Linked DNA regions of Homo sapiens: region 1 is linked to region 2. Evidence: fine-mapped expression QTL. A gene starts in region 2. The other region holds a variant in brackets. All regions are shown on one strand. Distances are from middle to middle.

Evidence for each region. PIP is the estimated chance that this variant, and not a neighbour inherited with it, causes the effect.
Region 1: its variant is fine-mapped to the expression of MORN1 in pituitary (GTEx, PIP 0.96).

Annotation. Positions count from the first base shown.
Region 1 is chr1:2,281,911-2,287,269 of GRCh38, reverse strand. All of the region lies in intron 1 of SKI (SKI proto-oncogene), which reads right to left. Among named protein-coding and RNA genes, the nearest start is that of SKI, 56 kb to the right of the region's middle. RefSeq lists enhancers at 2,080-2,748, 3,419-4,088. The variant A/C (reference allele first, on the strand shown) is at 2,341.
Region 2 is chr1:2,388,736-2,394,094 of GRCh38, reverse strand. It overlaps MORN1 (MORN repeat containing 1), which reads left to right and starts at 2,541. Exons shown (of 14, transcript NM_024848.3): 1 at 2,541-2,637; 2 at 4,099-4,170. The coding sequence starts at 2,562. RER1 (retention in endoplasmic reticulum sorting receptor 1) reads right to left here and starts at 2,254. Exons shown (of 7, transcript NM_007033.5): 1 at 2,137-2,254. RefSeq lists silencers at 1,969-2,268, 2,369-2,478, 2,609-2,678, 2,839-2,968, 5,295-5,359 and enhancers at 1,510-2,382, 2,251-2,545.

The DNA.
Region 1 (5,359 bases), 110 kb after region 2:
ATCTAAAGAAACGCATTCCCAAGTCGCCTCCACCTTCCCACACAAAATGGCAGTCTCCAGGCGCCCTGGAGCCCCGCACGGCCCAGGGTCCAGAGCACAGGTGCACCCTGGGCCAGGGCACCCCGGGCGGGAGGGTGCGCAGGGGCCCTCTAGATTTTCGCCCAGAGCTGGCTGCTGTGGGGCCTGCAGCTGGACACTCACGGCTGGACCACCGGGTCTGGGAAGAAAACGCCCTCCACTCGTTACTTTTCCATCCAGAGCTGGCTTTGTGGGCACGCAGCCATGTCCTGGGCTTAACGCTCTGTCCCCATCATTGGCATTCTGAACAGTTTCACCTTTGATAAGATGTTCTTTTATAAGCAAAGTTCTCCGTGACCACAGAGCATGCATGAGCAGAGGTGGCACACGCCACATGCAAGCCCACTGCCATTCCCAGCCCGTGTAAAGAGCGTCCAGTGGAGGAGGTCGCGTTGGTCCCACCCAGTCACTTTCTCCCACTAGCCCACGACCGGAGCCTTGGGAGGGAGGGAGACAGGCGCCCACAGCCCCCACACGCAGTCTGTCCTCACTCAGAGCGAGAGCTGCGTGGCCACATGGGTGAGTTAAGCGAACTCCAACAGCCAGGTTCATTTTGGGCAGCGTTTGCCCTGATGTGGTAAGAATAAAATGCACACGCACTTTAATTATTATATTTGGGGTTCAAATCAAGAACTGTGCAATTTTGATGATTCCACAAGTTAAACACTCTTACATTTGCATTTTATGATTTTTTAAAGAGACAAGGTCTCACTCTGTCACCCAGGCTGAGTGCGGTAGCATCATCATAGTTCACTGCAATCTCTGCCTCCCAGGCTGCTCAAGTGATCCTCCCCTCTCAGCCTCTAGAGTAGCTGGGCCTACAGGCACACTACCACACCCAGCTAATTTTTGTATTTTTGTAGAGATGGGGTTTCTCCATGTTGCCCAGGCTGGTCTCCTGGGCTCAAGTGATCTGCCCACCTTGTCCTTCCAAAGCACTGGAATGACAGGAGTGAGCCACTGCACCCGACCTGCATTTGCGTCTTAAACTGGCATTACACAAGGTAAAGATGAACAGTAGGCTGGGCGTGGTGGCCCATGCCTGTAATCCCAGCACTTTGGGAGGCCAAGGTGGGTGGACGACGAGGTCAGGAGTTCAAGACTAGCCTGGCCAATGTGGTGAAACCCCATCTCTACTAAAAATACAAAAATTAGCCGGGTGTGGCAGTGCGTGCCTGTAGTCCCAGCTACTCGGGAGGCTGAGGCAGGAGAATGGCGTGAACCGGGGAGGCAGAGCTTGCAGTGAGCCGAGATCGTGCCACTGTGCTCCAGCCTGGGCAACAGTGCGAGACTCCGTTTCAAAAAAAAAAAAAAAAAAAAACCTTCTGGCTGGTGCGGTGGCTCACGCCTGTAATCCCAGCACTTTAGGAGGTCCAGATGAGCAGATCATGTGAGGTCAGGTGTTCGAGACCATCCTGGCCAACATGGTAAAAACCCCCATCTCTGCTACAAATACAAAAATTGGCTGGGCATGGTGGCGGGCACCTGTAATCCCAGCTACTAGGGAGGCTGAGGCAGAGAACTGCCTGAACCCGGGAGGCGGAGGTTGTAGTGAGCTGAGATCACGCCACTGCACTCCAGCCTGGGTGACAGAGCAAGATTCCGTCTCAAAAAAAAAACAAAAACAACAAAACAAAACTTTCAAAGGAAGAGTTGTTTGTTTATTGTTTGTTTTTGAGACAGACTTTTGCTTTTGTCACCCAGGCTGGAGTGCAGTGGCACGATCTCAGCTCACTGCAACCTCCGCCTCCCAGGTTCAAGCAATTCTCCTGCCTCAGCCTCCCTAGTAGCTGGGATTACAGGCACCCGCCACCACGCTCAGCTAATTTTTTTGTATTTTCAGTAGAGATTGGGTTTCACCATGTTGGCCATGCTGGTCTTGAACTCCTGACCTCAGGTGATCCAGCCGCCTCGGCCTCCCAAAGTGCTGGGATTCCAGGTGTGAGCCACTGCGACCGGCCTGGAAGAATCTAAGTCCATTTGTTAACACCTTCCAAATGCATGTCAAAAAGGCAGCTGACGTCAGGGCAGATGGAAATTTACTAGACAGATGGGGACAAGTCCACACGGCCACACCAACTGCCGCATGACACCTATCTCCAACCCAGACTCTGACCCTGGCCACGACTGCCCCCAGCCTCCAGATACCCTGGTGGCCCAAACACGAAATCATAAAACTTTAGCAAGAACAAAAAGGCTTTTCTGTCCTGTTAATTTACAAAATAAAACCACTTATGAATTCTGATCATCAGAAAGGCCCGC[A/C]TGGTGCACCTGTGCTGTGTGTGGCACCAAAACCACCTCCACACTGCACTGCGGAGCAGGGTCAGACCCTCAGTGAGAGCACCCACTCTCACTCTCCAGCCACCGGGGCCCCCAGCACAGGCCAAGGTGGGCCCCCGTGTCCACCTGTCATTCTTACAGCCACGCCGGCCATCCACCCCTCCCTGACTCTTCCCTGCCTGGAGCCCTCCCAGCCACCCAGGGGCCAGGGAGGGCTCATAGGCCGGTGTGGGGCGGGAGGGAGCCGCCGCAAGAGGCCCATGCAGTCACAGGAGGTCCACACGGACAGCGGGCCCTCTGGGCCGGTGTGAGCTTGAATTCTACCACCCCCACACCACTGGGGTGAGCCCACTGGGGAAGGGTCCCTGCCCCCCCAGGCACCTCAGCTGCATCTGCCCTGCTCCACAGAACAGGGACAAATCTCTTCCAGACAATCTCTACTTCACACGGAGCTGCCGTTGCCCAATTAGGTTTTAGGTTTCCATGAGATAACTGTTACAAAAGAGGTCTGAGGGCAGCTCCGCCTCTACTGTGCTGACCCAGGCCAGGTCACCTGAACCTCCAAGAGGCTCTTCTCAGGCCGCCTCGGGGTGGGAGAGGAGGGAACTCAACCCTACCAGGACGTCTCGGCAGCATGGGTCCAGGGATCAGGGATCTAGAGGCAGGGCAGCAACCTGAGGGAGCCCCGGCCAGTGGAACGGGGAGGACGCTGTGTTGGGGCCAGAGCCCCCCAGGGCCGGCCTCTGGGGCCTCTGATGCAGCTGTGACACCCAAGAGGGGAGGTCCATGTGGACAGGAGATGGACCCCAAGCCCCGGGCATTCATGGACGGGGGATGGCCCGGAGGACAGGGTCTCCATGAGTTGGGGAGGGTCTGGGTCTGGGGAGAAGATGGCACGGGCACTGCACCTGCTAACAGGGCACTAGCTGCGGGCAGACAGCAGCTCTGGAGGGAAACAAGCACCTCCCCGCCTCCTGCAGGAAGGGGACGCCACAGTGGCCCCCACCCGCCAGCGGGTCAGCTTTGCTGCCTCGGCCTCCCGCCTCCTCCAGCCCCAGCAGACGCCCACGATGTTTTCTCGCCATGAAAACCGACACAACATGGTGCCAGGCCTCAGTTCTAGTGGACGGGCCTCCCGTACCCTTGGGGCAGCTTCGAACCAGAGCAGTGCTGCCTGGACTTCCGGGCCATGGGCAGCAGGGCTGCACCCCAGCACCCCACATGCACTTGAGGGGCAGCTCCCTGAAGCCCCCTGGGCTGGATGGCCCCTCGTGGTACCCAAAGCCACAAGCCTGTCCTGAACATGGAGACACAGAGACCCCAAGCCAAGGCCCAGGCCTGCAGTACAACATCTGAGCAGGGGAAGCGGCCACCAAATCCACAGCGACAGCACGATGGCTTTGGTCCTGGCCCCGGCCCACATGGTTGCAGGAGAATCACAGGGCCCTCCCTAGAAAGCCAACACCTCTCCAAGACTCTGTCCTCAAAAGGCGATGCTTGCCACCTCCTCACCCCCATTTTCACAGAGACATACTCCTCAGGAGGCCCTGCCCTCCCCCCCCTGAGGCTCTGAGTCCTTGCCCTGTCAAAGGACCTGGACAGGCCCTGGGCCAGCAACAAGAGCTCCGTGCTGGGGAGACTGAGTGAGGCCTGGCGCAGAAGTGGGGAGAAGTGTTCAACTGTAAGCAGACAGCCTCACCCATAGGAGGGGCGCACCGGCACCCTCGGAACCCAGCCTGGGACCCAGCCTCCGCACAAAGCCTCTCAGGATCCCCGACAAAGGCGGTTGGGCCGGGTGGGGGCGCCTCCCTGGCCATGGCGTGGGGTCATTCCCACGGGATCCTCCCTAGTCAGCCAAGATGCCTGCGCCCCCACAGCCACAGGAGCTGCTGGCAGATGAGGGTCCGAGACTGGCTCCCGTCTCCCAGCACCGGCAAGGGAAGCGGGCCAGGTGCACACAGGACCCCAGCCTCCTCTTCAGTGTACACAGTGGCTCAGCTTAGGGCACAGGAGGAGCTCACTGAGGTCACTGGGCCCACACCGGGGTGACAGGTCGGAGGCTGAGAACCAGACCCACCCTTGCGAATGTCACTAGTAGCATGTGCTGGGCGCCAAGGACAGGACTGGCGCCCCCGAGAGCCGGTGTCCCTGGAAACCGCTCCTTGACGGGGAGCCCAGCCTCCTGACCTTTTCCTGGGTGGGGGTAAAGGGTGACCAGCAGCCCCTACCCAGGCCCTATCATGAGGGTGGAGGGCTGGGAGCCAGCGGGCTTGGGGGAAGCAAGGCTTTCCATGGGTTCGGAGGCCCTGCCCTGGTGCCACACAAGCCGAAATACTGCCCACCCGCCCACTATGGAACTCTGGGCTTTCTTTCTGAAGATCTCCGCCACTGCCTGTCTTCTCAGGCGTCCTCTCTCTGAAGATCTCCACCACCGCCTGTCTTCTCAGGCGTCCTCTCTCTGAAGATCTCCGCCACCGCCTGTCTTCTCGGGCATCCTCTCTCTGAAGATCTCCGCCACCGCCTGTCTTCTCGGGCGTCCTCTCTCTGAAGATCTCCGCCACCGCCTGTCTTCTCGGGCGTCCTCTCTCTGAAGATCTCCGCCACCGCCTGTCTTCTCAGGCGTCCTCTCTCTGAAGATCTCCGCCACCGCCTGTCTTCTCGGGCGTCCTCTCTCTGAAGATCTCCGCCACCGCCTGTCTTCTCAGGCGTCCTCTCTCTGAAGATCTCCGCCACCGCCTGTCTTCTCGGGCGTCCTCTCTCTGAAGATCTCCGCCACCGCCTGTCTTCTCGGGCATCTCTCTCTCTGAAGATCTCCGCCACCGCCTGTCTTCTCGGGCGTCCTCTCTCTGAAGATCTCCGCCACCGCCTGTCTTCTCGGGCGTCCTCTCTCTGAAGATCTCCGCCACCGCCTGTCTTCTCGGGCGTCCTCTCTCTGAAGATCTCCGCCACCGCCTGTCTTCTCAGGCGTCCTCTCTCTGAAGATCTCCGCCACCGCCTGTCC
Region 2 (5,359 bases):
CCAGGCCATCTGAAAGCCACCCGTCACATTGTTCGTCCTATAGCTCCTTGTAAGTTTCCCCGTTTTACTCAGACTGTTTCCCATTAAAGCACTTTTACTGGACTGGAGGTGATGAGAGTAATGTCAGGGAGAAAATACCCAGCTCTCCCGCCAAAGGGTGTTCTCTAGGCAAAGCTCAGAACTTCTCACTCTCCAACTGAACATGTAGAAAACCTACTCAAAACGCCATCAGCCAATCCTGCTTGTCTGACACACACAACACGTATACCAAACACACACGTATACCAAACACAGCTTGCACCCTGACTGAACGCATTGCCAGGAATAGCCTGAGGCAGGGCGGCAGGAGCAAGAACGTGAACTTTGGACTCCAACAGCCTGCTTTCAGATCCTGGCTCTACCACTCTCTGCCAGTGTGACTAGGACAGGCTATTCCAGGATGCCTCAGGTTCCAGTCTGTGAAATGGGACAACAGCACCTCTCATGCCTTCTCCACAAGGCTCTCGTGAGGAATCAGTGGGCAGCCCGTGGAGCACCCTTGGAGCCGGGCAAGGCAGTGCCAGCCCTGTTCCTGGATCAGGGCCAGCCCTCACACCAGCTGCCCCCTCTGCAGTCCTCTTCTCTGCTCAGTTTGAAGCCCACCTCCTCTTCACAGGCCTCCGTTACCGCCCACACTGACCCCCAGTCCCTTACATCACATCACCCTATTTTTATTTTGTGTACAACTGTTTCCTGATACCTTTCTGGTTTACTTCTCAATTTTCTCCTGCTAGAATGAAGCTCCTTGAGGGGTCCCTTGTCTGGTTCGGGGCTGGGCCCTGCCACCTGGAAGTCCATTACATAGTAGACAGCCCATCAATTACCTGTTGAAGGTGACTGCTTTATGCCTGGTCACAAACAAAACAGAAAGGGAGATAAAACCAGTCCAAGCAGAGACCATGAGGACGTGCCAGAAAGTGTAAGACTCTCTATGTGCCTTGTTCCAGGCCCGTCACATTCATCCACATCTGTGGTCCATCACTCTGCACGTGGAAAGGATGAAGTCCTCTGCCTGGCGTCCGGGAGCATTGACAGTCTGGCTCCCACCTTTCTCTTCACGTCCCCATCCCCAATTCCTCCGGGACTAAGAAAGCCCCCGGCTGCCGTGCACCAAGCTTCACGCCTCTGGTGTTGTTCAGTCCTCTGAAATGCCCTCCCAGACCCCGTCTCTTCCTCCTTCCCAAGGCCACATTCCAGCCTGGGCTCCCCGCTCCTCTGGGCCTGACCATCTTATATCTCCACCTGGCTCTGACACACTGTTACCGCCGTCGCCGTCACCTCAGGCATACGGCAGAAGCCATGTGAGAGTCTGAATTACTGAGAACCCTTTATCCACTTACGGGGATAACTGCATCTTCCTGGGAAATGTCAACTCAACTAAAAATAAAGTGCTTCCAGGACTAGCGGCCAGTCTCTACTCTTCATAAAGGGAAAAGGGCAAAAGCCCACTGAAGGTACTTAGGCTGAAAGCAGCCCTCTGTGCTGTGAGACACCTGGCAGAGAAACGAACGATACCTTTATCAGTGGGGCCACAGACCAGTACTAAGTCAGCCTGGAGAATTTATGATTTTATTGCCTATTTAGAATACGATCAAAACCGATGTAACTAGTTTCCCTTCAGCCCGTCAGTAACGCCTTCACCCCAGAGCTTAACACTAAATCCTACAGATAAGCGCTGACCTGGACGCAGGATGGGGACAGGGCACATTACTCTGGAATACAGCCCAACTCGCAGCGCTGTGGGGGCCGCGACTGCCCGCTTCCCCCAGATGCCAAGCAGGGGATGCGGACGAGATGCGGCCCGGGTGGCTCGAGGGCTGCAGCCCCCGCCCGGCCCCTCTCCCGCTCCCCCGACCCTCGCAGGCCCCAGGGCTCCGCCGCACCCCCCAGCACCCCGTCCCGGGCCCGACCCCGAGGCGCGACCCGTACCCCTCAGGGCCGCGGGTCGGGAACACGGTCCCCGCGGCCACCCGGGCCCCGACGGCCCTCCCCGCCCGGCCCTCAGCGCGGCCCCGCCCGCCCGCGGCCTTGACAGCCCGGAAGAAGCGGAGGCGGCGCTGCCCGGCCGTTCCCGCGCCACGCAGCCCTTCCTGGCACCTCGCAGCTCCGCTACGGCCGAGCCGCGGTCTCCCTCACGGCCGCGGGAAGGAGGACGGCGGGGCACGGGCGGCCGCAGGCGCTGCGCTCCGGCTCCGGGAAGCTGCAGCGAGCACTTCCGCTCCGTCCTCCGCGGCGCCGCCTCCAGGGCCCCCAAGATGGCGCGAGGGCGGGGCCAAGGGCTCCAACCATTTCCGCTTCCGGCGCAGACGCGCAGGCCGTTGGCGGGCGGGCCTCCCGGCGGAAGAGACGACAGCGGCGGAAACGCGCACAGGCGCAGCTGCGTCCTCTGGCTCCGGGCCCGGCTAGCTTCGCTCCAGAGATTGCGCGGGCTCAGGGACTAGGCCCGTGGCCACACCCCCCCTTGCGACAAAGACCAATGGAAGCGGGCGTTGCTGGTCGCTAAGAGAACCCTCGGCGGCAAGATGGCAGCGGCGGGCGAGGGCACCCCGAGCTCCCGCGGGCCGCGTCGGGACCCGCCTAGGCGGCCGCCCCGGAACGGTAACGACTGCGGGCCACGGGACAGGTCGCTGGCTGCCCTGGGCTCCATTCAGGGTGCGATCGCTCTACGCCCTCGACCCCCAAATGCTCACCTCGGAAAGTAGAGGTCCAGGTGCCGCGGCGGAGCCAGGGCCGCCCCCGCGTCCCCCACTCCCACAGGACTCGCCGTGCGCCTCGGGCTCGGCTCGCACCCTTCCCCGAGCCCTCCTCCCGCAGCAGGCCAAGCCCTGCAGGGGGTCGCCCCCCGCGGGCTCCTAGCCGGGAAGACCGGGTTCCGGCCGCAGCCTCACAGCCAGCGGGACCTGGGGTTGCCATGGGGATCCCGAAGCCCAGGACTTGGGGCGAGGGCAGGCGCAGGAGCAGCACCAAGCCTCCTGACTTCCTGGCCGGTGCTGTCCAGAAACGCTAGGACGCGTTTCAAAAGCAGTTTTTGCCTGTACTTCCAGCACTTTGGGAGGCCGAGGCGGGTGGATCACCTGAGGTCAGGAGTTCGAGACCAGTGTGGCCAACATGGCGAAACCCGGTCTCTACTAAAAAATACAAAAATTGGCCCGGGGTGGTGCCTCCTGTAGTTCCAGCTACTCGGGAGGCTGAGGCAGGAGAATCGCTTGAACCCAGGAAGCGGAGGTTGCAGAGAGCCGAGATCGCGCCGCTGCACCCCAGCCTGGGCGACAGAGCAAGACTCAGTCTCAAAAAAAAAAAAAAGAGCAGGTTTTGATAGGAACTGTTTCTAGAATCAAATAAACGGGTCTGGAATGAACTCAGAGCTAACACTACTATCTTCAGGTAGAACCTGACCCTGATTTGGGACAGATACAGTAGCCTGTAGTAACCCCCTGCCCTCCTCCCCGACATTTTCCCATAAACCCTGCCCACAAAATGTGCCTGAGGAGCTGGTAGGGAGGGAGCCCTGCCCATTCCTGGAACTGCAGGAGTTGGCGGGTGGCACACCCAGCAACTAGGAGGAGATGAAGCCGGCCAGGCCATCCTTGGGTATGAGTGTGGATTTTCTCCCCAGCGATAGGAGGCCACTGAAGGGCCACGGCAGGGGATGGGAGAGTCTGCTCCTCCCCTGTGTGCCTCACTGACACTGCCGCTCTGCCTTCCCCTGGCTCACTCATCTCCTGCAACAAGGCTCCCAACCTGCTCCTCACCACCTCCCGAGCACCTCTGGTCTCTCAAGGACCTGCAGTTGTTTCAAGCCAGCCCTCCTCTTACTGGGCCTGTCTTCTCTGCACCAAGTAGGTCCTCATCCTTGTCACATAAACAAATGAGCAAATGAATGGCCCAACAGTCGACAGGAGAGCTCATGAGCCCCACAGGTCGCCTCTGGTCTGCTGAAGGTGACGTGTACCAACCCCTTGAAGGCCCTCAAGGGAGCTGCACTCCCTCCTTCAGCACTGGAGAGCATCCCTCATCTCTGTGTCTGTGCTTACCTGTGTGTGTCTTCTCAATACTCAGGTTATGGTGTCTACGTATACCCAAATTCCTTCTTTCGATATGAAGGAGAATGGAAAGCAGGGAGGAAGCACGGTGAGAAGCATCTGTGGTCTCTTCTTGCAGCTGCTGCCCCACAGCTGACGAAACCAGTTTCTCCCCGGGAGGTTGGGTGGGCAAGTGGCATTTCCTGTAGCTTTCGAGCCCATTGTACCCTGGTGCTTCCCTGGCTGCTCAGGGTAAGGCTGGATGGGCAGGGGAAACAGAGGCCTGGGAGACCCCCCTGGAGGGCCACCTTTAGCAAAGGAAGCTGCGACTTTGAAATTCTCCCTAGAGGTTGAGTTCATTTGTCTTTTCCAGACTGAAAACTGGCTTTATGGTTTATTTCCTATTATAAAGAGAACCTACTCTTGTAGTAAATCCAAGTAATAGAAGAAAGAAAGTGTAAAGTCAAGCCAAGCGCAGTGGCTCACGCCTGTAATCCCAGTACTTTGGGAGGCCAAGGTGGGCGGATCACTTGAGGTCAGGAGTTCCAGAACAGCCTGACCAGCATGCTGAAACCCTGACCCTACTAAAAAGACAATAATAGCTGGTTGTGGTAAGGCACACCTGTAATCCTAGCTACTTGGCAGGCTGAGCCAGGAGAATCCCTTGAACACAGGAGGCAGAGGTTGCAGTCAGCTGAGATTGTGCCACTGCACTCCAGCCTGGGTGACAGACTGAGACTCCGTCTCAAAACAGAACAAAAAAAGCAAGTATAAAGTCGATAACACCTGTACCCCCACCAACCCCAGGCAAGTGCCGTGAACCTTTGGTGGTGTGGACGTTCCCGCCACTGTACTCCTCTCACGCAGTTTTGTATCTGCTCTCTGCCAGTTTTGTTTCTTTTTTCTTTTTTTTTTTTTTTGGAGACAGAGTTTTGCTCTTGTTGCCCAGGCTGGAGTGCAATGCTGCCATCTCGGCTCACTGCAACCTCCGGCTCCCAGGTTCAAGTGATTCTCCTGCCTCAGCCTCATGAGTAGCTGGGATTACAGGCACCTGCCACCACGCCCAGCTAATTTTTGTATTTTTAGTAGAGATGCAGTTTTGCCATGTTGGCCTGGCTGGTCTCGAACTCCTGACCTCAGGTGATCTGCCCACCTCAACCTCCCAAAGTGCTGAGATTACAGGCATGAGCCACTGCGCCCAGCCACTCTGCCTAGTTTTCTTCTCTCTCTCTCTTTTTTTTTTTTTTTTTTTTTTTTTGAGACAGTCTTGCTCTGTCGCCCAGGCTGGAGTGCAGTGA